Linked DNA regions of Homo sapiens. The protein of the gene in region 3 purifies or fractionates together with the protein of the main gene of each other region. This does not show direct contact. Each region holds a gene or a part of one and is shown on either strand. Other genes may lie near its edges. The genes, in order: CUL4B, DDB2, COPS3 and BTBD2.

What was found.
Region 1: the proteins of COPS3 (region 3) and CUL4B purify together in Homo sapiens (affinity purification with mass spectrometry; 13 studies listed by BioGRID and IntAct, with this or other methods). This does not show direct contact.
Region 2: the proteins of COPS3 (region 3) and DDB2 purify together in Homo sapiens (affinity purification with mass spectrometry; 7 studies listed by BioGRID and IntAct, with this or other methods). This does not show direct contact.
Region 4: the proteins of COPS3 (region 3) and BTBD2 purify together in Homo sapiens (affinity purification with mass spectrometry; 5 studies listed by BioGRID and IntAct, with this or other methods). This does not show direct contact.

What each region holds. Positions count from the first base shown.
Region 1 is NC_000023.11:120,529,956-120,536,979, reverse strand, and holds part of CUL4B (cullin-4B), read left to right. Parts: coding exon 1-53; intron 54-1,036; coding exon 1,037-1,150; intron 1,151-2,393; coding exon 2,394-2,499; intron 2,500-4,385; coding exon 4,386-4,558; intron 4,559-6,725; coding exon 6,726-6,878; intron 6,879-7,024.
Region 2 is NC_000011.10:47,217,974-47,224,997, reverse strand, and holds part of DDB2 (DNA damage-binding protein 2), read right to left. Parts: intron 1-7,024.
Region 3 is NC_000017.11:17,264,237-17,271,260, reverse strand, and holds part of COPS3 (COP9 signalosome complex subunit 3), read left to right. Parts: intron 1-252; coding exon 253-365; intron 366-453; coding exon 454-503; intron 504-3,215; exon of another isoform or gene 3,216-3,283; coding exon 3,284-3,376; intron 3,377-6,279; coding exon 6,280-6,459; intron 6,460-7,024. UniProt on the Homo sapiens protein: Component of the COP9 signalosome complex (CSN), a complex involved in various cellular and developmental processes.
Region 4 is NC_000019.10:2,012,704-2,020,420, forward strand, and holds the start of BTBD2 (BTB/POZ domain-containing protein 2), read right to left. Parts: upstream 3,012-7,717; 5' UTR 3,001-3,011; coding exon 2,594-3,000; intron 1,016-2,593; exon of another isoform or gene 844-1,015; intron 1-843.

The DNA.
Region 1 (7,024 bases), on a different chromosome or scaffold from region 3:
CAATGGGCTATTGGCCGACATATGTGCCTATGGAAGTTCATTTACCACCAGAGGTAAGAGTTACTGTTTAGAACTGAGTTATAGGCATAGAAATCATAGCATTTCCATTTTGCTTGTCATTTAAAAATAGATACTTAGAAAAAAATAGAGACCCAGGGTCTCGCTGTATTGCTCAGGCTGGTCTTGAACTCTTGGGCTCAAGTGATCCCCCCCGCCTCAGCCTTCCGAAGTGCTGGGATTACAGGTGTAAGTCACCAGGCTTGGCATGGATACTTTTAAAAGTGTATGTCAGTAAGCGCACCAACACCAAATACCAACTGCTTTAATGTTTTACTTTTGTACTTAGAAGTCCAGTTAAGCACATAGCTAATAATGCCAAATTTCTGGGTTCAGGGTCAATTTCCCTGGCTCTTCTTCCATCTTCCCAGGTTATACCCCTCACTCTACCTAGCTATTAAGAATTCTTGCACATATTTCACCCATAGGTGGGATTGCTAAATGATGGGTCCTTGATTAAATCTATCCTGACTCCTGGTAAACTGTCTAGTCCAGGACTGAAGCCCATAAAAGGGATTAAGGCTAGACAGATAGATATTGAGAATCCTCCATGGAGATGATTATGAAGGCCCAGGGAGTAGATTTCTCTCAAAGAGGAAGAAAAAACAGCAGAGGCAGAACTTTAGAAAAGGCTCACATTTGGCAGATGGTAGAAAGAGGAACCTGTGAAGGAAACCAATGCAGAAGCAACAGTGAAATAAAGGAAGCAGCATAGTGCAGAGGCACAAAAGCTGCTGCAGGTGAATGTTTCAAAAGAGGGGATGATTAAATGTTCAGAGAGAGCAAAAGGTATAAATCCTAATAAATCCCATTTGATTTGGTGGTTGGGAGATCATTGTTTTTCATCAAAGTGATTGGTGGACCTACTGGATATAGTCTTAAAATTTTCCAGAAACTATATCACATGAGGTAAGTATAAAAATGGTAAATGTGGTATTGGATACAGAGCTTAAATAAAGCCTTATTTTATTTACTTTAGATGGTAAAACTTCAGGAGATTTTCAAGACATTTTACCTAGGCAAACATAGTGGCAGGAAACTTCAGTGGCAGTCAACCCTAGGACACTGTGTGTTAAAAGCAGAATTTAAAGAGGTAAGTGGATGTTCCCAAAACTTTTAGTTTTCATCTTTATCTTTAATGTTTAGGTCATCCTTCTTAACTGAAAGTTTAGGCTATTGTTTTTTGTTTTCTTCTTTTTTTTTTTTTTTTTTTTTTTTGAGACAGAGTCTCACTCTGTCACCAGAGTGGAGTGCAGTGGCGCTATCTTGGCTCACCGCAACCTCTGCCTCCTGGGTTCAGGTGATTCTCCTGCCTCAGCCTCCCGAGTGGCTGGGACTACAGGCGTGCGCCACCATACCCAGCTAATTTTTTTTGTATTTTTAGTGGAGACGGGGTTTCACCATGTTGGCCAGGATGGTCTCTGTCTCTTGACCTTGTGATCCACGCGCCTCGGCCTCCTAAAGTGCTGGGATTACAGGTGTGAACCACCGCATCTGGCCAGTTTAAGCTGTTGTTTTATAATTGTATCCTAGATATCCGCATGATGACAGTGATAGTTTGTCATAGCTTTATGTATTTTTAAGTAATTTTAGGTGTGTGGTCTTTCCACGATTGATTTGGCCCTTCTGCAAAATGAAAAGCAGTGAACTTTCCCCCTACCCTTTCCTCACCTGTGGATGAAAACTGTACACTGCCACTTCCTATTTTTATTTATTTGTTTATTTTTAGAGATAGGGTCCCACTCTGTCACCCAGGCAGGAGTACAGTGGCACAATCATAGTTCACTGTAACCTCAAACTCATGGGCTCAAGCTATCCCCCTGCCTCCGCTTCCTAAAGTGCTGGGATTACAGGCATGAGCAACTACACTTAGTCTAACACTGCCACTTCTTGACAGAAATCTTGTTGCTGGGAGCTACGAATAGAGTGGGAGTTAAGGGAAACAGTGTGCAATATCTAATCTCAAAAAACTTTAGCTTTTCATGACTAATCTGAGCCAAACAAATCAAAAATACATTTGAAATAGTGATTTCTTGCTGCTTGTGATGAATATCTAGAATGACACATAAGGCTGATTAATTTTCATTACTGTATTCTATTTATAAGGCTTAAAAAAAAACTGTTAAAAGGTCAGCTAATCCTTCCCCCTATTTTAGGTAGGGTCACACCTAAACCTCACACTGAAATACTGTATTACCACGTCAAGTGGCTTTGCTGGATAATGCTAATCATGTTTCTAAATCCACTAATTGAAAAATGCTTTTCCTATAAGAGATGATTAATTTTTCATGTGTTTTTAAAAAAGTGATGACTAAACACTTTTATTTCTTCAACAGGGTAAAAAGGAACTCCAGGTCTCTCTTTTTCAAACACTGGTGCTGCTAATGTTTAATGAGGGAGAGGAGTTCAGTTTAGAAGAGATCAAGCAGGCAACTGGAATAGGTTTGTAGCAAACATTAATTGTTCACTATGTGCACACCACTATGTTAAGAGGTCTGGGGGACATATTTATAGGAATAATTCCTTGCCTCAGAACTGTTTTGAGTTTTTTTTTTCTTTTTTTTTAATGAGACAGGGTCTCACTCTGTCACCCAGGCTGGGGTCCAGTGGTACAATCATGGCTCAGGCTCAAGTGATTCTCCTGCCTCAGCCTGCCAAGCAGATGGGACTACAAGTGCATGCCACCGTGCCTGGCTAATTTTTAAAATTTTTTTTTGTAGAGACAGGGTCTCACTATGTTGCTTAGCCTGGTCTCAAACTCCTGGGCTCAAGGGGTCTTCCTGCCTCAGCCTCCCTAAGTACTGCAATTACAGGCATGAGCCCCTGCAGCCAGCCAGAACTCTTTTTTTTTCCCCTCAAGACGGAATCTTGCTCTGTCACCCAGGCTGGAGTGCAGTGGCGCGATCTCGGCTCACTGCAACCTCTGCCTCCTGTGTTCAAGCAATTCTCCTGCCTCTGCCTCCCGAGTAGCTGGGATTACAGGCGCCTGCCACCACACCTGGCTAATGTTTGTATTTTTAGTAGAGACGGGGTTTCACCATGTTGGCCAGGCTGGTCTCGAACTCCTGACCTCGTGATCCGCCTGCCTCGGCCTACCAAAGTGCTGGGATTACAGGTGTGAGCCACCGCGCCTGGCCAGAACTCTTTATATAACCATAGGGAAAGGGGGAAATGACACTTGAAATAATGTCAAAACCCATAAGTACTGGCTTGTGGTACTGACTATAAGTGTGGTAAGAGTGCAACAAAGCAAGAGATCACCGTGGACTGGCACAATTGGGAAAGCTGTCATGAAGCAAGTGGCATTTGAGCTGGGCCTTCAAGTTTTGGTCAGGGAGAAGGCATATACAGCAAGGGGAAATATTTTGAGATGAGGTTGGGAGGTAGGAATGGGCACAGTATAGGCCCATGAAGAGCTTAATTGTAGCATAGAATCATGAAGAATCATGAAGAGCTTAATTGTAACATAGAATAGTGAGTTAAAAAATTAGGTAAGATGAGTAGGGCCTGATTGTGGAGAACCTGATAAGTCTAGCAAATGAAACCTACACTGTAGTGTCTCAACTATGTGGCATGGTGGAAGTAATTATTTGGACCACTTACTGAAATCAATCTACAGGGCAACTGGAAGGATCAAGGGATTCCAGTTTAGATGCTATTGGGATGATTCAGGCATAAAGTAGAAGGGACTTAGACTAGAATGAGACCATGAAAATGGAGAAAACTCATCTCTGCGGAAGCAGCGGCTAGCTATTATGTTGAGGATGAAGGAGAAGGAAAAGTTAAAAGATGATTTTAGGGTTTCCCAACTGAGAAGGTTAGTGGTATCACCACTGACAATTGGAAAGAGGACACAGTTATATGGAGATGATGAATCAAATTTTGGACGTAACTACAGTTGATAGTAAAACAGCCAGGCGGAATTGCCCTTTAAACGTGCAACTGGAGAGAAGTGAAATGTCATTTTGGAATATTTGGTAGTTGCCCACATGGTATGATAATTGACGTCTTTAAAAGAGGACTAGGGGCCGGGCGTGGTGGCTCACATCTGTAATCCCAGCACTTTGGGAGGCCAAGGCGGGTGGATCACTTGAGCTCAGGAGTTTGAGACCAGCCTGGGCAACATGGTGAAACCCCGCCTCTATTTTTTTTAAAAAAGAAGAGGACTAGGAAAAAAGCCATTGGCTAGAACAAAGAAAAGTTGTTGGTGACCTTTGGGAAAAAATGAAATAGTTTTAATAGGGGGATGGAGTGGAAGCTAGATTGAGGTAGAATGTCGTAGTTGTTCATGCTGGTAACAAATAACTAAACCTCTGTTTCTTCTTCAGAGGATGGAGAGTTAAGGAGAACACTGCAGTCATTAGCCTGTGGCAAAGCTAGAGTTCTGGCGAAAAATCCAAAGGGCAAAGACATTGAAGATGGTGACAAGTTCATTTGTAATGATGATTTCAAACATAAACTTTTCAGGATAAAGATCAATCAAATCCAGATGAAAGAAACGGTATTTCTTTCACTTTCTCTTAGTCCTAACACACTGGAATTATACATGTTAATAATCAAAATATATAAAGATTTTTATACCTGTAATACTGCCAATACCATTAATATTTTTTGTGTCTATGTCCAGCTAAATATGTTTCCTGATTTGATTTTGGGTGTTTGGGAGAGTGGTTGTACAGGATTGAGATGATACTCAACATAGTTTCATATCTTACTTTGTTTATTTAGTATTCAATCTTTAGAATTTTTCCATGCCATTAAATAGCTTCGAAAAATGGCAGATGGCAGTGTAATATTTTTACATGGCTCTTATAGTTTGTTCAACCACTGTTCATTTTGGGGCAATTAAATTCATGACTTATTAGTATTATAAATAAGATTGCAAGAAACCTCTTTGAAACTAAATTTTAATCTCTGATATATGATAAATTTGTGGAAGTAGATTTTTTTGGGTTAAAGGGTATGAACATTTTAGGAGTCTTAGTACATAATGTCATATTGTGTTCCGGAAAGGCTGGACCAGTTTATACTCTGTCCAGCAGCATATGAGAGCCTGTCTTACTATGTCCCCCAGCACTAAAGATTATATTTTCTTTTGCCAACTTGCTTGGTGAAAAATCTGAATTGATTTATTCACTATTTATTTGATTAACAGTGAAGGTGGGCCAGGTACGGTGGTTCACACCTGTAATCCCAGTACCTTGGGAGGCCGAGGCGGGCAGATCACCTGAGGTCAGGAGTTCAAAACCAGCTTGGCCAACATGGCGATACCCTGTCTCTACTAAAAATACAAAAATCAGCTGGGCGTGGTGGTGCGTGCTTGTAGTCCCAGCTACTTGGGAGGCTGAGGCATGAGAATCACCTGAACCCGGGATGTGGAGGTTGCAGTGAGCTGAGATCGCGCCACTGCACTGCAGCCTGGGTGACAGTGAGACTCTGTTTAAAAAAAAGAAAAAAAAAACAAAAACAGGGAAGGTGAATATTTTGTTTGTTTTTGCCATTTGAATTTGTAAGAGACTTCCAACTGCAGCATCCTGAAACTGATGGTTTCAGTTCCAATAAGGTTTAATGCAATATTTGAAAAAAAAAAAATTTTTTTTTTGAGGTGGAGTCTCACTCTGTCACCCAGGCTGGAGTCAGTGGCACGATCTTGGCTCACTGCAGCCTCCGCCTTCCAGGTTCAAGCGATTATCCTGCCTCAGCCTCCTGAGTAGCTGGGACTACATGCGTGAGCGACCATGCCCGGCTAATTTTTGTATTTTAAGTAGAGATGGGTTTTCACCATATTGACCAGGCAGGTCTTGAACTCCTGACCTCATGATCCGCCCATCTCGGCCTCCCAAAGTGCTGGAATTATAGGTGTGAGCCACTGAGCCCGACTGAAAAAATTTTAATGTAGGACAGCGACCAGTATCTCCAAACAAGTTCCTGTCATTTTCACATACACATCAAAGACAGGATATTTTCTTAAAGGATTACCATGTCCTTACTTTTAAAACATTTATGCTGTACCAGGAAGAAACTGCTGCAAAAAGGCCAAACTGTTTTTTTGGTTTAATTACTAAAGATGAACATTTTTACTTTAGCATCAAGATTGGTAAACCGCCTCCTAAATACCTACATTTCTGTAAGTCTTGAAGGATTGTAAGCACTAATGGCATGCATGTCTGATTTATATATTACAAAATAAAAATTAATTTTCAAAGAGGTTGACTCTTAACTAGTTTGCTTAGCCAGTTAATACCATGCCTTGAGTCAGAGATCAGACAGAGTCACCTTATAGACAAGCTATTGTCATAGAGAAATCTGGTTAACAATCCATTGAAACTGATACACACATTTAGAAGATATATCAAAGACAGAGTAAAAAAACAAAATGGTAAATTCCACATCAGCTATCTCTACTTCTAGAAAAGCAATTCAAAGATGATGTTTTTCTATTAACTAATATTAGCATTACTTCATTGGTATAGGGCAATATAATCAGAACAGAAAGGAGTTATGTTTGTAGGATTTTTCTCTGTCAGCATCTATATTTATAAGACCCCATTTAGATAATTCAGTACCTTTAAAGCAATAACAATGTCATGTCCCTAAAATGCACAATTTATGTAAATAGTCAGGTTTTGCTTCTGGTATAATTCCTAGGTTTAAAACTTTTTTGTTAGGTTGAAGAACAAGCAAGCACTACAGAAAGAGTATTTCAAGACAGACAGTATCAAATTGATGCTGCAATTGTTCGAATTATGAAGATGAGAAAGACACTTAGCCACAATCTCCTTGTTTCAGAAGTGTACAACCAGTTGAAATTTCCAGTAAAGGTAGGTACTTCTGTGTTTTCCTATTGAGCGTGTTATAAATAAAAGAAAGTACATTAGATTTTCAGACACAAATCTTGCAAACATAAAGCGTCATGACCATTTAGAGAGAGAAAAGTTTTAATTTCCCATGTTGATGCATATGATTT
Region 2 (7,024 bases), on a different chromosome or scaffold from region 3:
CCAGTGCACTCCAGCCTGGAAGAGAGAGTGAGACCTCATCTCAAAAAAGAAAGAAGAGGAAATAATAAATATGAGGAGAGAAATGGAAGACATGAAAAAAAATCCAAATTAAACTTCTAGAGGGGATATACAGTATCTGAAATGAAAAATACGCTGGGCTACTTTGCCTATGGAGCAGCCCTGCTCTGCACAGGCAAGAAAGAGAAGAGAAAAGGAAGAGGAAGAGAAGAGAGAGAAAGGAACGAAGGGAGGGAGGGAGGGAGGGATTGACAGCAGAAGGTTAGATATTACAGAAGTAAAGATCAGTGAACAACTGCACAAAATGAAACAGGGAAAAAGACAAAAATGAACAGTGCATCAACCACCTGCAGGACCATATGTAATCGCAGTCCCAAGAAAAAAAGAACTGTTCTTTTTCTTCATTTTGAACTCTTTGTAAGAAATAATGGGCTGGGCAAGGTGGCTCACGCCTGTAATCCCAGCACTTCAGGAGGCCAAGGTGGGCGGATCACTGGAGGTCAGGAGTTCAAGACCAGCCTGGCCAACATGGTGAAACCCTGTCTCTACTAAAAAAATAAAATAAAAATAAATAAATACAAAAATTAGCCAGGTGAGGTGGTGGGCACCTGTAATCCCAGCTACTCGGGAGGCTGAGGCAGGGAGAATCGCTTGAACCCTGGAGGTGGAGGTTGCAGTGAGCCGAGATTGTGGCACTGCACACCAGCCTGGGCGACAGAGTGAGACTTTGTCTCAAAAGAAAAAAAAAATCCATAAATCAAAGAAGCTTAGTGATCCCCCCACAAGCACATCATAATCATTTTTAAAGCGACCAGAAGAAAAATTACATAGACAGGAACATAAGGATAGTAGCAGACTTCTCATCAGGATGTTTTGTTTTGTTTTGTTTTTAATTGAGACAGGATCTTGCTCTGTCACCCAGGCTTGCCTAGCTCACTGAAGCCTTGTCCCCCTGGGCTTAAGCAATTCTCCCACCTCAGCCTCCTGAACAGCTGGAACTACAAGTTCAAGCCACTAGCTAATTTTTAAGATTTTTTTGTAGAGATGGGGTCTTGCTGTGTTTCCTAGGCTGGTCTTAAAGTCCTGGCCTCAAGAGGTCCCCCAGCCTCAGCCTCTCAAAGTGTTGAGATTACAGGCATGAACCATTGAGCCCAACTAGAAATCATCTTTATTTTTATTCTTTATTTATTTATTTATTTTAGACGGAGTCTTGCTCTGTCACCCAGGCTGGAGTGAAGTGGCCGATCTCGGCTCACTGCCAGCTCTGCCTCCTGGGTTCACACCATTCTCCTGCCTCAGCCTCCCAAGTAGCTGGGACTACAGGCGCCCACCACCACGCCTGGCTAATTTTTTTTGTATTTTTAGAACAGACAGGGTTTCACCGTGTTAGCCAGGGTGGTCTCAATCTCTTGATCTCGTGATCCGCCTGCCTCGGCCTCCCAAAGCGCTGGGATTACAGGTGTCAGCCACCGCGCCCAGCCTTATTTATTTATTTTTGAGACACAGTCTTGCTCTGTCACCCAGAATGGAGTGCAGTGACACCATCTCGGCTCACTGCAACCTCTGCCTCCCAGGTTCAAGATTCTCATGCCTCAGCCTCCCGGGTAGCTGGGATTACTGGTGAGCGCCACCACACCCAGCTAATTTTTGTATTTTTAGTAGAGGCGGGGTTTCACCATGTTAGCCAGGCTGGTCTAAAACTCATGATCGCAAATGATCCACTTGCCTTGGCCCCCCAAAATGCTGGGATTACAGGCGTAAGCCACAGCGCCCAGCCTAGACATCATCTTTAAAGTACTGACAGGAGAAAACTGTGAACAAATATATTGTATGCAATAAAATACAATTTTAATTTACCAATTAAAAAATAAAAGTTAAATAATTTTAAAAACTGTGAACCTAGAATTCTATACTTAGCAAAAACATCCTCCCTCAAAATAAAGGCAAAATACTTTTCTAGATAAACAACAGTGGAAAGTATTTATCACCAATCTGCATTATAAGAAATATGAAAGGAATTTCTTCAGGCAGAAAGAAAATATTACCAAAAGGAAATCTGGATCACATGAAAGAATGAAAGCACTGGAAATGACAATATGTGGGCAAATAGAAAAACCTTTTCTCATTTAAAAAGTATCTTTAAAACATTCCTACTCTATAATCCAGCCATTCCACTGCTAAGTATTTACCCAAGAAAAATGAAAACATATATCCACACAAATACTTGTACGTGAATGTTCACAGTCGCTTTATATGTTGCATTCAAAAACTAGAAAAAAATTCAAATGTCCTTGAACAGGTAAATGAATAAACTGTATCATATCAGTACAATGTGGCTGGGTGCAGGGGCTCACGCCTATAATCCCGGCACTTTGGGAGGCTAAGGCAGGAGGATAGCTTGAGGCCAGGAGTTTGAAACCAGCCTGTGCAACACAGTGAGACCTCTGTCTCTATAACAAAATTTTAAAATTAGCCAGGTATGGTGGCCTGTGCATGTAGTGCCAGCTACTCAGGAGGCTGAGGTGGGAGAATCGCTTGAGCTGAGGAGGTTGAGGCTATGCTGAACCATGATCATCCCTGGGTGACACAGCAAGACCCTGTCTTAAAACAAAAAACAATGAACCATTATTCAGAAAGAAAAAAAAAACTACACATAAAAATGTAGATAAATTTCAAATAATTATACTGAAACAAGCTAGAACAAAAATAAAAGACCATATATTCTATGATTCTATTTATATATAGTTCTAGAAAATGTAAATTAATTTCTAAAAATAAAAAATAGATCAGCAGTTTACAGTGAATAAGATATTGGGTAGAGAGGGGTGGATTACAAAGGGGCATAGATAACTCATCTATCTATCACTCTCCAAATATTCAACAAAGGGTGGGGAAATGGGAGTTATTTTAATTGTGGTGATGGCTTCACAGTTGTACACATATGTCAAAACTCATGGAATTGTACAATTTATTCTTTTTTTCTTACTGCTTCTCTGGAGTAGGACTACCCCATAGGCTGAGAATAGCCAAATTGTACACTTGAAATAGCTGCAGTTTATGTCCACTATACCTCAATAAAGATATAATTTTAAAAACCCAGGCCGGGTGCAGTGGCTCGTGCCTGTAATCCCAGCATTTTGGGAGGCCGAGGCGGGCGGATCACTTGAGGTCAGGAGTTCGAGACCAGCCTGGCCAATATGGTGAAACCCTGTTTCTACCAAAAATATAAAATTCAGGCTGGGCACGGTGGCTCACACCTGTAATGCCAGCACTTTGGGAGGCCAAGGCAGGTGGATCACCTTAGGCCAGGAGTTCAAGACGAGCCTGGCCAACACGGTGAAACCCCGTCTCTACTAAAAATACAAAAATTAGCTGGGCATGGTGGTAGGCTCCTGTAATCCCAGCTACTCAGGAGGCTGAGGCAGGAGAATCATTTCAACTCAGGAGGCAGAGGTTGCAGTGGGCCGAGATCGTGCTACTGCACTCCAGCCTGGGCAATAGAGTGAAACTCTGTCTTAAAAAAACAAAACAAAACAAAAATTAGCTGGTGTGGTGGTGCATGCCTGTAATCCCAGCTACTCGGGAGGCTGAGGAAGGAGAATAGCTTGAACCCAGGAGGCGGAGGTTGCAGTGAGGTGAGATCGCACCACTGCACTCCAGCCTGAGCGACAGAGCAAGACTCAGACTTGGAAAAAAAAAAAAATAGTGTACACATGCACAGAGGGATGCTGAAAATGGGGATTTTGGATCATATTTAATTTATTTTTTACACTTTTCTCTGTATTTTATGATAAGAATACACTGTTTTGTTTTTTGAGAGATGGAGTCTCACTGTGTCGCCCAGGCTGGAGTGCAGTGGCACCATCTCAGCTCACTGCAACCTCCACCTCCCAGGTTCAAGTGATTCTCCTGCCTCAGATTCCTGAGTAGCTGGAACTACAGACGTGCACCACTACTCCCGGCTAATTTTTGTATTTTTAGTAGAGACAGGGTTTCACTATGTGTTGGTCAGGCTGGTCTCGGAACTCCTGACCTCAGGTGATCCACCCGCCTCGGCCTCCCAAAGTGCTGGGATTACAGGCGTGGGCCACTGCGCCTGGCCCCATACATTGTTTTTATAATAGGAATAAAATTAAGCTATCTTCATTGTGAAACTGTAATACATGTTCCCTTGCCAAGGGCCTGAAGAATGTAAAGGTCACAGCCAAGGTCAGATGACTAAAGAAGTGACAAAATGAGGCACTGTTGCTCCTCCAGTAACTGGTCTCAAATCAGCATTCTGCTGTCAGCATCTGGGAGTAAAACCAGACAGGTCTCTTCCAGACTGCCATACCCTTCCTCTGCTCCAACCTAGCTCCCTGCAAATGCAAGCCACAAAATTCAATGCCTAGACCAATCTTCATTACAGTGTAAAGAAAGTTTACACTGTAAAGAAGGTTACACGCATGTCATAAGGTGATGCAACAAAGAAAAAAAGCAATCTCAGTCTGGCACAAGTTCAAAGCACTTGTCATTATCCTGTTAGTCAGGAAGCTCTTCCCCTAGAATACCCTACACTGCTTCTTCCCATCTCCAGGCATAAGCTAAATTCCTCTATTCCCATGTCCTAGACTCCTGGAGAAAACAAGAAAACAAATTTCTTCCTGTCTGAGCTCTGGGTTCTGACTTCAACTTCAAGCTGCCTTATTAGCGGTCACCTGCCTCTTTAGCTGGGCAGGAAACCTACCCCACTCTGTCCGCGGCACTCCTCTGACTGCCTTTCTGGGGGCTTCTGGCACTTGTTCCTTGAACACCCATCTCACACTTTGAATTCCAGTCTCCCACACCTGTCTAACCTGGCCTTTTCTGGTGGTCTGCTCTCCAAATCCCTCCACTTAAGAGACCTCCTGCTGGCTGGGTGCAGTGGCTCACGCCTGTAATCCCAGCACTTTGGGAGGTCGAGGCGGGCGGATCACGAGGTCAGGAGATCGAGACCATCATGGCTAACACGGTGAAACCCCATCTCCACTAAAAAATATAAAAAAAGTAGCCGGGTGTGGTGGCGGGCACCAGTAGTCCCAGCTACTTCGGAGGCTGAGGCAGGAGAATCGCGTGAACCTGGGAGGCGGAGCTTGCAGTGAGCCGAGATTGCGCCACTGCACTCCAGCCTGGGCGGCGGAGTGAGACTCCATCTCAAAAAAATAAACAAATAAATAAATAAAGAGACCTCCTCCTGGGTTCCCCCTCATGTCTACCTTTAAACCAGAGCTAGAAAAATAGTGGACTGAAGCAGAATTCGGCTGAGACGTGTGTTTAGTTTCATTCAGTGCCAATATTAAGACGTTCTAGAGGCCCAGCACAGTGGCTCAGCCCTGTAATCCCGAGCAATTTGGGAAGACAAGACAGAAGGATTGCTTGAGGCCAGTAGTTTGAGACCAGCCTGGGCAATATAGAGAGACCACATCTCTAAAAATTAGCCAGGCATGGTGGTGCGTACCTGTAGTCCCTGATACATGGGAGGCTGAAGCCGGAGGATTCCTTGAGTCAGGAAGGTGGAGGCTGCAGTGAGCTATGGTTGTGTCACTGCACTCCAGCCTGGGTGACAGAATGAGACTCAAAAAATAAAAATAAAAAAAAATAATGAAGTTCTGGAGACTGCTTACACAATTTACCCAACGCCATTGAACTGTGCACTTTAAAATGGTTACGAAAGTAAATTTCATGTTATATGTATTTTATCATTATTTTTTAAAAAGTTGGCTGGGGGCGGTGGCTCACGCCTGTAATCCCAGCACTTTGGGAGGCCGAGGCAGGCAGATCACAAGGTCAGGAGATAGAGACCATCGTGGCTAACACGGTGAAACCCCATCTCTACTAAAAATACAAAAATTAGCCAGGCGTGGCAGCATGCACCTGCAGTCCCAGCTGCTGGGGAGGCTGAGGCAGGAGAATGGCATGAATCCGGGAGGCGGAGCTTGCAGTGAGCCAAGATTGCGCCACTGCACTCCAGCCTGGGTGACAGAGCGAGAGTCCGCCTCAAAAAAAAAACACTTTTAAATGGTTAAGGTGATACATTTTATGTTACGTGTATTTTACAATTTTTTTTAAAACTCAAGATATATGACATTTAAAAAATGAGGATTTGTGTCTTTGTTTGAGAAAAATCACATCTGATATCAAAAGACCTACATTTTTGCACAACAGTCATCTCTAGTTTACCCCTGACCCTACCACCATACATTCTTTTTTTTTTTTTTTCCACTCTGGCTTCTGGAGCCCTATAAGTTTGTGACTCCTGCTCTAAACCCAGTGTCACTTTTCACAGCACAGCCCTCCAATGTCAGCCACCAGCTGGGCTGGCTAAAGGTCCTAGAGGGGACGACACACTCACCCCTCAGCAATGGATGATAAACTCTAGCACAACAAAGACCATTCCCAAGAACTCTGTGCCAAACCTCACCCAGTCACACTATGTCTTTCCTTCTTTTCTCTCCATTTATCTAATACTGCTCCTCCTCGCTCATCCATGGAGTCTTCTTTATTGACTCCAATTCACAAGGGGTTCTTCCTTCTTTCACATTCTGTAGCACTTGGCATCTGTATTGTTAATTACCTCGTATGTATACATCCCATCTGCTCAATTACACTTCAAGCCCCTCACTCATTCAACAAATATAAAGCAGCTACTCTAGGCCAAACTTTGTTCCAGGCACTGGGAATAGGATGGTGAACCAGAAAGGAAAGGTCCCTGCCATCAGTGGGCAAACATACAAATAAGCATCAGATCTCAGACACCCATCAACACTTGGGGGAAACATGAAGCAGGGTAATGATACAGGGAATGACGGTGGAGGAGTGGGATCTACGTTATGAGTAAGGACAACCAGCGAAAGCCTCTTTGAAGAGGTAGAATCAGCAAAGACCTGCAGAGAAGACGCCAGCCATGAGAAGACCATGGGGGAAAAGCACTCCAGTCAAAGGGAACAGCAATTACAGAGACCCGGTTTCAGGAATAGAAACAGCTGGT
Region 3 (7,024 bases):
ACAGGGTCTCACCATGTTGCTCAGACTGGTCTCAAACTCCTGGCCTTAAGCAGTCCTCCTGCCTCAGCCTCCCAAAGTGCTTGGATTACGGGCATGAGCCACTGTCCTGGCCTAGTTCTTAATTCTAAAAAATACTGTTGCTCATTTAATTTTACAGAGTATTGGAGGCAGGATGGATTTCTTGCATACATTGTTTCTGTATTTTATCCCATGAACTATCAGGGTAATTTGATTCTTTTCTCCTTATTCTAGGTTTGTGAAGTTTTCTATGCCCAGTGTTCCTGACTTCGAAACGCTATTCTCACAGGTTCAGCTCTTCATCAGCACTTGTAATGGGGAGCACATTCGATATGCAACAGACACTTGTAAGCTAAATAACATTTTATTCTCCATTGAAAATATTTTGCCCTTGTGGTTATATTTATATTTTGAATATTTTGTTATTGTATCTAGTTGCTGGGCTTTGCCATCAGCTAACAAATGCACTTGTGGAAAGAAAACAGGTAAGAAATACTATTCAAGTATTCCTAGTTTTGTTATAATATGTAACTAGCTTACACAATGAATTACTTTATCAAGATTCCAGTTAGTACTGAGCATCCACCACCTAGATATCTGTGGTCACTTGAGAGCACTCACAGCCATTGCTGTAAGCTCAGGCAGTCCCCGCATCCCCTGAATGAGGTGGAGGCACGGGGTGGTTTGGCACCTCAGGGAGGCTGCTGCTGGAACTACCAAGTAGTTGGAATTACCAAGCCAGTACCCTTTATGTTGTAATATGCTGGGTTTTGTCTGTTACATTTTTTCTTTTAACTTTTAATTAGGACATTATTTTAGCCTTACAAAAAGCTTCAAAAATAATATAAAAAATTCTCATACATTTTACCTAGATTTTCCAAATGTTAACATTTTACCGCACTTATTCTTTTTTTTTTCTCTTCCTCTTTTATTCTGAGCCATTGTAGAGTAAGTTGCACATATGCTATTGCTGTTCTTTATCCCTAAATACTTCAGTGGGTAAAGCCTAAAAATTAGGACATTCTGTTACATAGTATAGTGTAATGGTCAGCATCCAGAAATGAACTCTTACTGTTTTTTTTTTTGGAGACAGAGTCTCGCTCTGATGCCTAGGCTGGAGTGCAGTGGCGCCATCTCTGGTCACTGCAACCTCCACCTCCCAGGTTCAAGCAATTCTTCTGCCTCAGCCTCCTGAGTAGCTGGGGACTACAGGTGCATGCTGCCACGCCCAGCTAATTTTTTGTATTTTAGTAGAGACGGGGTTTCACCATGTTGCCAGGCTGGTCTCGAACTCCTGAGCTCAGGCAATCCTCCCGCCTTGGCCTCCCAAAGTGCCAGGATTACAGGCGTGAGCCACCACGCCCGGCCCAGAAATGAACGTTAATATAATGCATCAACAAATTGACAGACCCCATTTAGATTTTCCCCCAGTGAAAAGGACTGTCTTTTGCTATAAAAGGACATTAGCTGTTTGGACAGTGTACTATATATTATATAGCAAAAGAAAACCGTGGACCATGGATTGCATTAGACTGCTTTGTTTCTTTAGTGTCCCTTAATCTGAACAGTTATTTCATTCTTTATCTTTTATAATACATAATTTATAATGTGGATTTTTAAAAAATTTATTTAGTTATTTATTTTTTTGAAATGGAGTCTCATTCTGTTGCCTAGGCTGGAGTGCAGTGGTGTGATCTCAGCTCACTGCAACCTCCACCTTCCAGCTTCAGGCGATTCTCGTGCCTCAGCCTCCTGAGTAGCTGGGACTACAGGCGCATGTCACCTTTCCCAGCTGATTTTTGTTTTGTTTTGTTTTTTGAGACAGAGTCTCGCTCTGTCACCCAGGCTGGAGTGCAATGGCGCAATCTCGGCTCACTGCAACTTCCGCCTCCTGGGTTCAAGCAGTTCTTCTGCCTCAGCCTCCCAAGTAGCTGGGATTACAGGTGCCTGACACCATGCCCGGCTAATTTTTGTATTTTTAGTAGAGACAGGGTTTCACCATGTTTGCCAGGCTGGTGTCAAACTCCTGACCACAGGCGATCCGCCTGCCTCGGCCTCCCAGTGATTTTTGTATTTTTAATAGAGGTGAGGTTTTGCCATGTTGGCCAGGCTAGCCTCTAGAACTCCTGACCTCTGGTGATCCGCCTGCTTCAGCCTCCCAAAGGGCTGAGATTACAGGTGTGAGCCACTTCACCCAGCCAGGTGTTTCTTTTTAATTTGAAAGTAAATTTAAGATTAGTGGTTTGAAAGAGGCTGAAAATAGAACCAGTTGTTATTTTGTAGTACTAAGTAACCATGTTTGAAAGAGATGGTTAAGAAAAATCATGAGTTTTTGAAAAAGCTGTAAGTTATTGAGCTATTTTTAGTCTCTTCACATATATATATATATATTTTTGTTGTTGTTGTTGTTGTTGTTGTTTTTTTGAGATGGGGTCTTGCTCTGTTGCCCAGGCTGGAGTGCAGTGGCGCGATCTCAGCTCACTGCAACCTCCGCCTCCCGGGTTCAAGCGATTCTCCTGCCTCAGCCTCCTGAGTAGCTGGGACCACAGGCACATCCCACCATGCCCGGCTAATTTTTGTATTTTTAGTAGACATGGGGTTTTGCCATGTTGGCCAGGATAATCTTGATCTCCTGACCTCATGATCCACCCATCTTGGCCTCCCAAAATGCTGGGATTACAGGTGTGAGCCACCGTGCCCAGCAATTTTGGAAGAGACTATATTTTAGTCTGCCAAAAACTGATTATGCCTTACTTGACACTTGGTCTTCTTATTTATAATCAGGGCAGGAAACAGTCCTTTTGAAATCTATGGTGTTAGTTTTGGTAGTAATTTACTACCAGGTAAGGGGTAGACTGCCCTATGGGAAAATGCCAACACCCTTAGCCACAAGTAATTTTCCTAAGCATAGGCTGTTGTCTCTTGTATAATAAGTGATTTGGAAAGTTTTCATTTGTTTAGATGTTAATATAATAAACTGTTGAGAAAGTAATACTGTTTTTGATTATTGATCTTCATTGTAAAAATAAAAGCTTTTTATGATTTAAAAAATGGTGCTGAGTTATCTAAAAATTCCAAGAAACAGCTTAAGAAAAGTTTTCTGACTTAAATGGGACAGAAATTTCCTGAAAGAGTATGGAAACCTCATATTGCTATTTAAAGGAACCTATCAATTAGTGTTATTTTTTATTTATAAGTGACAACATAAGATCCAATGTGCTGCCATCTTTGAGAACTTATCTGAAAGAGATGTCATTTCTGACAGCCCCTGCGAGGAATTGGCATCCTTAAGCAAGCCATAGACAAGATGCAGATGAATACAAACCAGCTGACCTCAATACATGCTGATCTCTGCCAGGTAAGCAACCAAAGTGTGTGATTCACACCAAGTCAGAGGTGTAGGTTGTTTATGGGCTTGCTCAACATTGGGTTTGATAAACACAGGCAAGTTGGCGATATTGTGATGTGTTATAGAAGTTGGAATATGTAGGTACATCTATTACATTCAGGCGGGTGCTGGATGCAAACTGTAGGATGGGGCTCAACTAGTAAGCTTGTCGAACAGATAGGGTAATTAATAGTTGTAACTTTTTTTTTTTTTTTTTTTGAGACAGTCTCACTTTGTCGCCCATGCTGGAGTGCAGTGGCACAATCTCAGCTCACTGCAACCTCTGCCTCCCGGGTTCAAGCAATTCTCCTGCCTCAGCCTCTCGCGTAGCTGAGACTACAAGCACCCACCACCAAGCCTAGCTAATTTTTGTATTTTTAGTAGAACAGGGTTTCACCATGTTGGCCAGGCTGGCGTTGAACTCCTGACCTCATGATCCACCCGCCTCAGCCTCCCAAAGTGCTAGGATTACAGGTGTGAGCCACCACACCCGGCCCTAGTTGTAACTTTTTTTTTTTTTTTTTTTTGAGACGGAGTCTTGCTCTGTCGCCCAGGCTGGCGCCATCTCAGCTCACTGCAAGCTCCGCCTCCCGGGTTCACGCCATTCTCCCGCCTCAGCCTCCCGAGTAGCTGGGACTACAGGCGCCCGCTATCACGCCTGGCTAATTTTTTTGTATTTTTAGTAGACACGGGGTTTTACTGTGTTAGCCAGAATGGTCTCAATCTCCTGACGTCGTGATCCGCTCGCCTCAGCCTCCCAAAGTGCTGGGATTACAGGCGTGAGCCACTGTGCCCGGCCTGTAACTTTTTTTAAAATCCCGAATCATTTTTTTAAAATTGTGGAGCCTGCCAGGTGCAGTGGTTCACGCCTGTAATCCCAACACTTTGGGAGGCTGAGGCGGGCGGATCACCTGAGGTCCGGAGTTCCAGACCAGCCTGACCAACATGGAGAAATCCCATCTCTACTAAAAAAAAATTGTGGAACCTGAGACTTAACATAGCTAACTTCTTACACCTTAAAATGTTATTCATTTATCTTTTTTTTTTTTATTTTTTGAGATGGAGTCTTGCTCTGTTGCCCAGGCTGGAGTGCAGTGGCATGATCTAGGCTCACTGCAAGCTCCGCCTCCCAGGTTCAAGCAATTCTCCTTCCTCAGCCTCCTGAGTAGCTGGGATTGTGGACGTGCACCACTACACCCGGCTAATTTTTGTATTTTTAGTAGAGATGGGGTTTCACCATTTTGGTCAGGCTGGTCTTGAACTCCTGACTTCAAGCGATCCGCCCACCTCAGCCTCCCAAAGTGCTGGGATTACAGGTGTGAACCACCGTGCCTGGCCTCATTTATTTATCTTATTTTGCGATGTTCAAAGTCCAGAAGGCAAAAGGGCAGGTATATAATGAAGTCTCCTTCCCATTCTGTTTGCTAGCCATCTATTTCTTCTCTACAAAGGAAACTATGTTAGTTATTTCTCGTGTATCCTTCCAAAAACTTTTTATGGACATAAAAGCAAATACGAATATATATTTTCTCATTTTTTACACAAATTGTAATAATCTATGCATACTCTTATGTAGCTTGCTTTTTGTATTTAACATATCTTGGAGATGATTCTGTAGCAGTACTCTACAGGTACGGAGTATTCTATAATATGAGTATGCGATGGTTTTAGAAGTCTGCATGGGATATTTACATTGTTTCCTTCAAGAATAACATGGTATGTGGATTATTTCAAACACATGTTCTAGTTTCATATGAAGATGTGCTTTTTAATGTTTTAAAAAAATTGTGATTGAGGTACAACATATAGACAGTAAAATACTAAAGTGTATAGCTCAGTGAGTTTGTACGCATGTCTACACTGCGTCTCCATTAGCTAGATAACTGTTCTAAGGGCTTGCTTTCTTGAGTTGCACAATTCCCTGTATTTACCTAAAGGATTAATTAAAGGAACCACTTCTACTTGTATCACACCATGCTGGTCTCTTTCTATTCCACTAGTTCAGTAAAGAAAGAGGACACACTCTTTTTCCCTCTAATCAGATGGGTAGGGATAGGTTAAGAGATAAGTGAGTCTTGTCTGTAGAGTTCTCTATTCTCAATCATCTATAGCATGCTTGGCCTTATAGCTGTTTAGCTTTTTATAAAGAAATGCTCCCCCAGGTGAGGTGGCTCACGCCTGTAATCCTAGCACATTCGGAGGCCAAGGTGGACGGATCACTTGAGGTCAGGAGTTCGAGACCAGCCTGGCTAATGTGGTGAAACCCTGTCTCTACTAAAAATACAAAAATTAGCTGGGTGTGGTGGTGCACGCCTGTAATCCCAGCTACTCGGGAGGCTAATGCAGGAGAATCACTTGAACCCGGGAGGTGGAGGTTGCAGTGAGCTGAGATGACGCCACTGCACTCCAGCCTGTGTGACAGAGTGAGACTCCATTTCAAAAAAAAAAAAAAAGGTAATGCTGTTTTTTTCTGAATGGCTAAGAAAATGGAGTACAGGTTGACTATTCCTAATCTGAAAATTTGAAACCCAATCCAAAAATTTGAAACCCAAAATGCTCCAAAATCTGAAATCTTTAGAATGCCAACTTGGCACTCAAAGTGCTCATTGGAGCAATTGGATTTCAGGTTTTCAGATTAGGGATGCTTAACTGGTATGTATTCTGCAAATATTCCAAAATTTGAAACACTTGTGGTCCTAAGCATTTCAGATAGCAGATACATGAAATGTGTTGACATTTAGATAATTTTAGTCAATAAAATGTAAAACACAATTACATTATTTGGAAATTTCTGGAATCAATGAATTTTCTCCTTCTGCTAATACCTGCCTAAGTAAAATTAAAGTGATGATTTAATATCAATTTGTTCACAGCTTTGTTTGCTAGCAAAATGCTTTAAGCCTGCCCTTCCATATCTTGACGTGGATATGATGGATATCTGTAAAGAGAATGGAGCCTATGATGCAAAACACTTTTTATGTTACTATTATTATGGAGGGATGATCTATACTGGGCTGAAGAACTTTGAAAGAGCTCTCTACTTTTATGAACAGGTAATCTCTCTAAAAATTAGCTGAGGTTGTTCTGAACTTGTGTGATCAAAAAAGTGCTCCCATAGGTTTGTGGCTAGAGTGGTCTGATCCCAGGGCCTCCGTTTCAGGTGTTGGTCCTTTCAGAGACTACTTCTCTGTGATCATGTAAATAGTGGTAACCTGATCCCTAAGTTGAGGAGCAGCGCCAGTGCATAGAAGAGCACTTGTCTGGGGGTTCTAATCTAGGCTTGCACTTATACCTTATCTGATTTGGAATAAGTTATGACATCTCTTGACCTTTATAGCTTCCTTTGCATATAAGGAAGAGATTGAACTGAGTGATCTTGGTTGTGTCTTATTCTAAAACCATGTGTGGTATTTTGTTAAGTTTTATTTAATCAGTGAAACATTCTCTTGATTCAAAATTTAAAGGGTAGAAAGGAGTACACAGTAAAAGTCCCTCCCACCCTTTCTGTGTCTGTGTAATGAAACATAGTACACAATTTGGTAGAATATTCTGGAGGTTTACTCAGACTCTGAAAAAGAGATACACAATATTGATTAATAAACCACTTTACTTAAGGTA
Region 4 (7,717 bases), on a different chromosome or scaffold from region 3:
TGCCCTCTCCTGAGCCCCCCGGGGGCAGACCCCTCACCTACTTTTCTCCAAGGGGTCCTTGTCCTGCCTCCATCTTCCCCACTTTGCAACCGAGCCAGCGGTCCCTCAAGTGCAATCGCATACATGTCCCAAGGTCAGCCGGTGCCCGGGGCGCCCCACCTCCCCCCTCAAACAGAAAGCCTGGGATTCTCCAGCTGCACCTGCTGCTGGGTGAGTTCCAGCTGCATCCAACCTACCCCCTCCCCAAAGAGCACAAAGACCACCCAGGTGGAGGGAGCAAACCCACCGCCCCTCACTCCAAGCTAGGAGAGGCCCAGCAGCTAAGGACGACAGAGACAGGGACGGCGACACGGACGGCACAAGCCGTAGGAGGCCCCGGAACCCTCCAGGGGCAGGAACCTCTGCTAAGTACCGCCCAGGGCAGGACCCCACGAAAGGAGACCCAGCTGCCCATAAACACCCAGGAAGAAGCCAGAACACGTTAACAAAAGCACCCGAAGGTCAGAAGGGAGGGCAGGACCCTCCCCCTCCAGTGCCCGCAGCAAGAAAACCCAGCCCCTGCCCCCGACCAATGAGGGGCAGGGTAAGAGGGACCGGGGAGTGGAGGGAACCTGGGGCCTGGGGCCGGTACCCCGCACACTGGCAAAGACAGATACTGGGCCAAACCCACTTCTTTCCCAGAAAGGAGGGCTGGGGGCTGGGGAGGGAGGGACCCCGGAGCTGGGGGTCTCTGGGTTGGAAGGGCCCGGAGATGGGAGTCTGGGCAGGGGTCTAGGGTGGTGGCCTGGTGGCAGGGGATCATAGGATGGGGTGCAGGGGGTAGCAGGGCCCAGGGGAGACAACCTTCTGCAGAGTCCAGGGTCCAGAGCCTGGCAGTGGCGGAGCTGGAGGTGGGTGGTCACTGAAGTGGGAGGTGGCAGGGCCCAGGGGTCTCTGGCTGAGGTGGGGGTCCGGGGCTGGAGGGGCTGTGGATGGTAGTCTATGATCTGGACTGCAGGGCGGGCAGGGGGTATCCCTGGAGGGGAGCAGCATGGTTTGAAGGTCTCTGATCCAGATCATGTGCTGAGCCTGGGGGTCTCCGGTGGGGGTCACTGGGTCTGGAGGCAGCAGGGAGGACGCAGGGAGCAAGGCCTAGGGGTCTTGGCGCACAGGGGTGCGGGTGGGAGTGGCAGGGTCCCTGGATGGTGGGGGAAGAGGGAGGGGTCTTGTGGTCATGGGTGGGGGTGGAGGAAATAGCACGACCCCTGAAGGGAGGGGTCCTGGAGTTCAGGAGTCATAGGTTGGGGGTTACGGACTGAGGTGGTGAGGACTGGGGACGGGGGGTCTCAGGTGAGAGCGGAGAAGTCTCTCCATCCTGGGATGCAGGGGTGACACACTTGAGTGTAGTGGGGTCCCAGGGGGCCCCGGGAGTAGAGAGTGGAAGGGCAGTGGGCAGGGGTGAAGGACCTGGGGAAGGAGGGGTCCTGGAGAGTCCCTGGGTACAGGGACGGAGGGGTCACCAGTAGGGGTCCCAGGGGGAGAGGGGCGGCAGGCAAGGGTGCAGGGCCTGGGGATGGAGGGGTCCTGAGGATCCCCGGGTATAGGGATGGAGGGGTGTGGCATGTGGGGTCATGGGTCCTAGAAACAGTGGGTTGGGGTCCTGGGAATGGAGGAGCAGATAGGGGTACACGTCCCAGGGTTGGAGGGTCACAGGAGTCCCAGGGGTGGTGGGTGGGGGTGCAGGGCCAGGGCATGGAGGGGACCCAGGGATGCAGGCCAGGTGGGGTCCAGGGATGGAGGGGCCTGGGGTGTAGGCAGGGGTTCCAGCCGGAGGTGGAGGGGCCCAGGGATCTGGGGGCAGAGGTGTCTGGGGACCTGGGGTGCAGGGAGGGGTGAGGTCCAGGGATGGAGCGTCCTGGGGATGGAAGAATGGAGGGTCCTAGGGTGCAGGCGGGGGGTGGAGGGCCCTGAGGATGGGGTATTCAGGGTTCTGGGGTGCGGGCTGGGTGGGGTTTGAGGATGGAGGGGCCCAGGGGCTCCAAGTGCAGGCCGAGTTGGAGGGTCCCAGGAACGGAGGGTACCGGAGTGCAGGCTGGGTGGGTCCAGGGACGGAGGAGAGCAGGGGTCCCAGGGGTACAGGGCCTGGGATCCCGGGGAACAGGCTGGGGGCGCAAGCCAGAGGTGGAGGATCCAGGGGGGCCTGGGGATGGAGGGGTGCAGAGGCCCAGAGTGCAGGCCTGGTGGGGTCTGGGGACAGAGAGGTGCAGAGGCAGGGACAGAGGGGTGCAGAGCCCAGGGAACTGGGTGGAGTCTAGGGATGGAAGGGTGCAGGCCCCGGGGTGCAGGCCGGGTCGGTTTCAGGACCGGAGGGGTGCAGGGGTCCCAGGGACAGAGGGGTGCAGGGCCTCAGGTGCAGGCCCCGGGGTGCAGGCCGAGTTGGGTTCGGAGCCTGAGGATGCAGGGGTGCAGGGGTCCCGGGGACAGAGGGGTGCAGGGCTCGGGGATGGAGGGGTGCGGGGGTCTCGGGGACAGAGGGGTGCAGGGCCTCAGGTGCAGGGCCCGGGCAGCAGGCTGGGTGGGTCGGGGCCAGGGCTGGCGGGGTCGGGGCGCCCACCTGTGCGCGGGGATGCGCTGCGAGCTGAGCCCCTTGCCCACCAGGAAGTGCACGTCGCACAGCACCTCGTTGTTGAAGAGGAAGGCGAAGCGCTCCTGCACGGTGGGCTTGCTGGCCTGCCAGTTGTACGCGGCCTCGCGCTGCAGCGCCGCCGCCCCCGGGCCCGCCGCCTCCTCCGCCCGCTCCGCGCCCGCGGCCTGCGCGTCTGTCCCGGGGCCCGGCGGGGCGGGCGGCGTCGGCCCAGGGGCGGCGGCGGCGGCGGCGGCGGCGGCGGCGGCGGCGGCCGCGTTGCCGGGGGCCGGGGTGGCGGCGGCGTTGGCGCTGGGCCCGGGACTGCCCCCCGTGCCCGGGCCGACCCCGACCCCCGGCGGGCACGACGCACGCCCGCCGCTCCCACCCGCCGCCATTTTGTGGCTGCGGCGTGGGCGGGGGAGGGGAGGAGGGAAGGAGGGAGGGGAGGAGGGAAGGAGGGAGGGGAAAGGAGGAGAGTAGGGGGAGGAGGGGGAGGAGGGAGGGGAGGGGAAAAGAGGAGGGAGGGGAAAGGAGGGGAGGAGGGAGGGGAGGGGAAGCGGGAAGGAGGGAGGGGAGGAGAGGGAGGGGAAAGGAGGGGGAAGGAGGGAGGGGAGGAGAGGGAGGGGAAAGGAGGGGGAAGGAGGGAGGGGAGGAGAGGGAGGGGAAAGGAGGGGGAAGGAGGGAGGGGAGGAGAGGGAGGGGAAAGGAGGGGGAAGGAGGGAGGGGAGGAGAGGGAGGGGAAAGGAGGGGAGGTGGGAGGGGAGGAGGGAGGGGAGAAGGGAGGTGAATGGGGGAGGCTGTTGCAGGGGAGGGGACGGGGAGGAGAGGGAAGAGTAGGAGGGGCCTGTAGAGGGGAGGAGCTGGTGGAAGACCTCTTGCTCCACTCCCTAAGCATCCTGACCTGAAGCCCAGACTCCAGACCGAGGTCCAGAATTTGGGGTCCAGGCACCAGGCCCCAGACTCCAGACCGGGAATCCTAAACCCTGGAGCACAGACCTCAGTCCGGGATCCCAGGCCTCAGACCTTGAATCCTAGATCCCAGACTCTGAACCCCAGACTTCAGACTCCGGATTCCAGATCCCATACCTCAGACCCGGAACCCCCAACCCAAAGACCAAGCGCAAACTCCAGACCCCAGACCCCGGACCCAGGTGGCGGGCCTGCTCCGTGGCGCAGGCTCCGCTGTACAGAGACATAGCCTGAGGCCGGGAAGCTGCGGATGAGCGAGCAGGATGCAGGCCACGTGCACTGACACTCAGCAGACGCCCAGCACCCTCTCCAGGCCAGGTGTGGGGGGTGGTCAGTGTGGACGGAGCTGGGACTCCCCCAAAACGCTTACTACATACATAATGTCAAGGTAGACAAATGCCACAAAGATTGAGGAACCAGGTCGGGCGCAGTGGCTCACGCCTGTAATCCCAGCACTTCAGGAGGCCAAGGCGGGGGGTGCATCACCTAAGGTCAAGAGTTGGAGACCAGCCTGGGCAACATGGCAAAACCCTGTCTCTACAAAAAATACAAAAATTAGCCAGGCGCGGTGGCTCACGTCTGTAATCCCAGCACTTTGGGAGGCCGAGGCGGGCGGATCACCAGGTCGGGAGATCGAGACCATCCTGGTGAAACCCCATCATGGTGAAACCCCATCTCTACTAAAAATACGAAAATTAGCCAGGCTTGGTGGCGGGTGCCTGTAATCCCAGCTACTCGGGAGGCTGAGGCAGGAGAATCACTTGAACCTGGGAGGCGGAGGTTGCAGTGAGCCGAGACCGCGCCATTGCACTCCAGCCTGAACAACAAGAACAAAACTCCGTCTCAAACAAACAAACAAACAAACAAAACAAAACAAAAAAAAAACTAGGCGTGGTGGTACGCACCTGTTGTCCCAGCTACTCAGAAGGCTGAGACGGAAGCATCACTTGAGCCTGGAAGGTTGAGCTTTTGATGAGCTATGACTCCACCACTGCCCTCCAGCCTGGGCAACAGAGCAAGATCCTGTCTCGAAAAAAAAAAAAAACAAAGAAGAAAAAGAAAATAGGGTATTAAAAAAACCCAAGTGATAATGCTATTTTCAGTTCTCCAGAGTGGGTGGTTGAGGTAGTTACAATTTTTTTTTCTTTTTTCTTTTTTCTTTTTAGAGTCTCCCTCTATTGCCCAGGCTGGGGTGCAGTGATGGCGATCTTGGCTCACTGCAATCTCAGCCTCCTGGTTCAAGCAATTCTCCCGCCTCAGCCTCCTGAGTAGCTGGGGTTACAGGTACCCGCCACCACGCCTGGCTAAGGCTAATTTTTTTTTGTTTGTTTGTTTTGTTTTTGAGACAGTCTCGTTCTGTCGCCCAGGCTGGAGTGCAGTGGCGCGATCTTGGCTCACTGTAAGCTCCGCCTCCCAGATTCACGCCATTCTCCTGCCTCAGCCTCCCGAGTAGCTGGAACTACAGGCGCCTGCCACCATGCCTGGCTAATTTTATATGTGTGTGTGTGTATGTATATACATATATATATATATATATATATTTTTTTTTTTTTTTTTTTTTTTTTTTGAGACAGTCTTGCTCTGTCGCCCAGGCTGGAGTGCAGTGGCACGATCTCAGCTCACCACAACCTCCGCCTCCCGGATTCAAGCGATTCTCCTGCCTCAGCCTCCTGAGTAGCTGGGATTACATGCACCACCACGCCCGGCTAATTTTGTATTTTTAGTAGAGACGGGGTTTCTCCATGTTGGTCAGGCTGGTCTCGAACTCCCGACCTCAGGTGATCCGCCTGCCTTGGCCTCCCCAAGTGCTGGGATTACAGGCGGGAGCCATCACAGCCGGCCTCTAAATGTCAACTTTCTTATCTCTCATCTCATACATTTGCAAAGTGACATCTTTCCAGCCAAATCCTAAAGAGGACATCTGTGCAGTCCCTTCTAGATGAAGGTGCAGAACAGGCATACCTGCCATGGTGACAGAAATTAACAAAATGGTAGGTTGTCTGAGGAAAGGGTGAACTTTACGGAATGCTGAGATGTTCACGATTTTTTTTTTTTTTTTTTTTTTTTTTTTTTTTGAGATGGAGTCTCGTTCTGCCACCCAGGCCAGAGTGCAGTGGTGCAATCTCGGCTCACTGTAAGCTCTGCCTTCCAGGTTCATGCCATTCTCCTGCCTCAGCCCCCCGAGTAGCTGGGACTACAGGCGCCTGCCACCATGCCCGGCTAATTTTTTTTTTTTTTTTGTATTTTTAGTAGAGTCGGGGTTTCATCGTGTTAGCCAGGATGGTCTCTATCTCCTGACCTCGTGATCCGCCCACCTCGGCCTCCTAAAGTGCTGGGATTACAGATGTGAGCCACCGCGCCTGGACTTTTTTTTTTTTAAAGAGCTGTAGGCCAGCCATGGTAGCTCACGCCTGTAATCCCAGCACTTTCGGAGGCCGAGGCAGGCAGATTACTTGAGTTCAGGAGTTCGAGACCAGCCTGGCCAACATAGTGAAACCCTGTCTCCACAAAAAAATACAAAATTAACAAGGTGTTCTGGTGTGTGCCGGTAGTCCCAGCTTTTGGGAGGCTGAAGTGGGAGGATGGCTACAGCTGGGGAGGCTGAGATTGTGCCACTGCACTCCAGCCTGGGCGACAAAGTGAGGCCCTGCCTAACACACACGCACGCGTGCGCGCACACACAGGCACACACACACACGGGATCTCACTTTGTCGCCCAGGCTGCTCATGAACTCCTAGGCTCAAGCAATCTTCTCGCTAGGCCTCCCAAAACGCTGGGATTACAGGTGTGAACCACTCGGCCATGTGGAGATTTTTTTTTTTTTTTTTTTTTTCTTGAGACAGAGTCTTGCTCTGTCGCCCAAGCTGGAGTGCAGTGGCGCGATCTCGGCTCACTGCAAGCTCTGCCTCCCGGGTTAACACCATTCTTCTGCCTCAGCCTCCCAAGTAGCTGGGACTACAGGCGCCTGCCACCACGCCCGGCTAATTTTTTTGTATTTTTAGTAGAGACGGAGTTTCACCGTGTTAGCCAGGATGGTCTCGATCTCCTGACCTCCTGATCTGCCCATCTTGGCCTCCCAAAATACTGGGATTACAGGCGGGAGCCACCGCACCCGGCCCATGTGATTTTGAGAGGGGTGTGAGTGATACAGGTTCATGCATTTGCCTAAATTAACCAAACTACGCTTAAGATTTGTGCATTCGCTGTAAGTAAACCATACCTCTCACTAGACCTAAACATATTACGGATGGAGATTATCTATGAAGGCAGAAACATGAGTCCACCTCAGCCCTAGGGCTGGCAAGGGAAGCTTGCGGAGCCTTTTTGTCCTTTGTCAGTGCTTTTTTTTTTTTTTTTTTTTTTTTTTTTTTTTTTGCTGGCTATTGAGCCAACACCTGCCCCTGGCAGTGCGTTTTGAGCGTTTTTGAGTTTTCCCCGGGTTTCTGGAACCAATCCCAGCCCTGTCTATGCGGTGATGGCGTCTAGAGGGCGCTCGTCACCAAGCTGATTGCTGGATTTCCATTCATTTCCAGAGAAGTGTGCAGTTCACATAATAGAACCATCCTTGGCCAGGAGGGTGGGATGTCATTTCTTCCCTCCCACGGTCCCCTTTCCTCTTCTCTGACTCCAGGACACTCAGGCTGGCTGGCTTTCTTTCTTTGGCTGGCTTGCTTTCTTTCTTGTTCCTTTCTTTCTTTCTTTTTTCCTTCCTTCCTTCCTTCCTTCCTTCTTTTTTCTGCAAAGTCTCGCTCTATCTTCCAGGGCTGGACTGCAATGGTGCGGTCACAGCTCACTGCAGCCTCCACCTCCTGGGCTCAAGTGATCCTCCCGCCTCAGCCTCCTGAGTAGCTGGGACCACAGGCGCGCACCACCATGACTAATTTTTTTTTTTTTAAAGAGTCTCTCGCGGCCAGGCGTGGTGGCTCACACCTGTAATCCTAGCACTTTGAGAGGCTGAAGCAGGAGAATCGCTTGAACCCGGGAGACGGTGTTCAAGACCATCCTGGCTAACACGGTGAAACCCCGTCTCTACTAAAAATACAAAATATTAGCCGGGCGTGGTGGTGGGCGCCTGTAGTCCCAGCTACTCGGGAGGCTGAGGCAGGAGAATATCAAGAACTCAGGAGGCGGAGCTTGCAGTG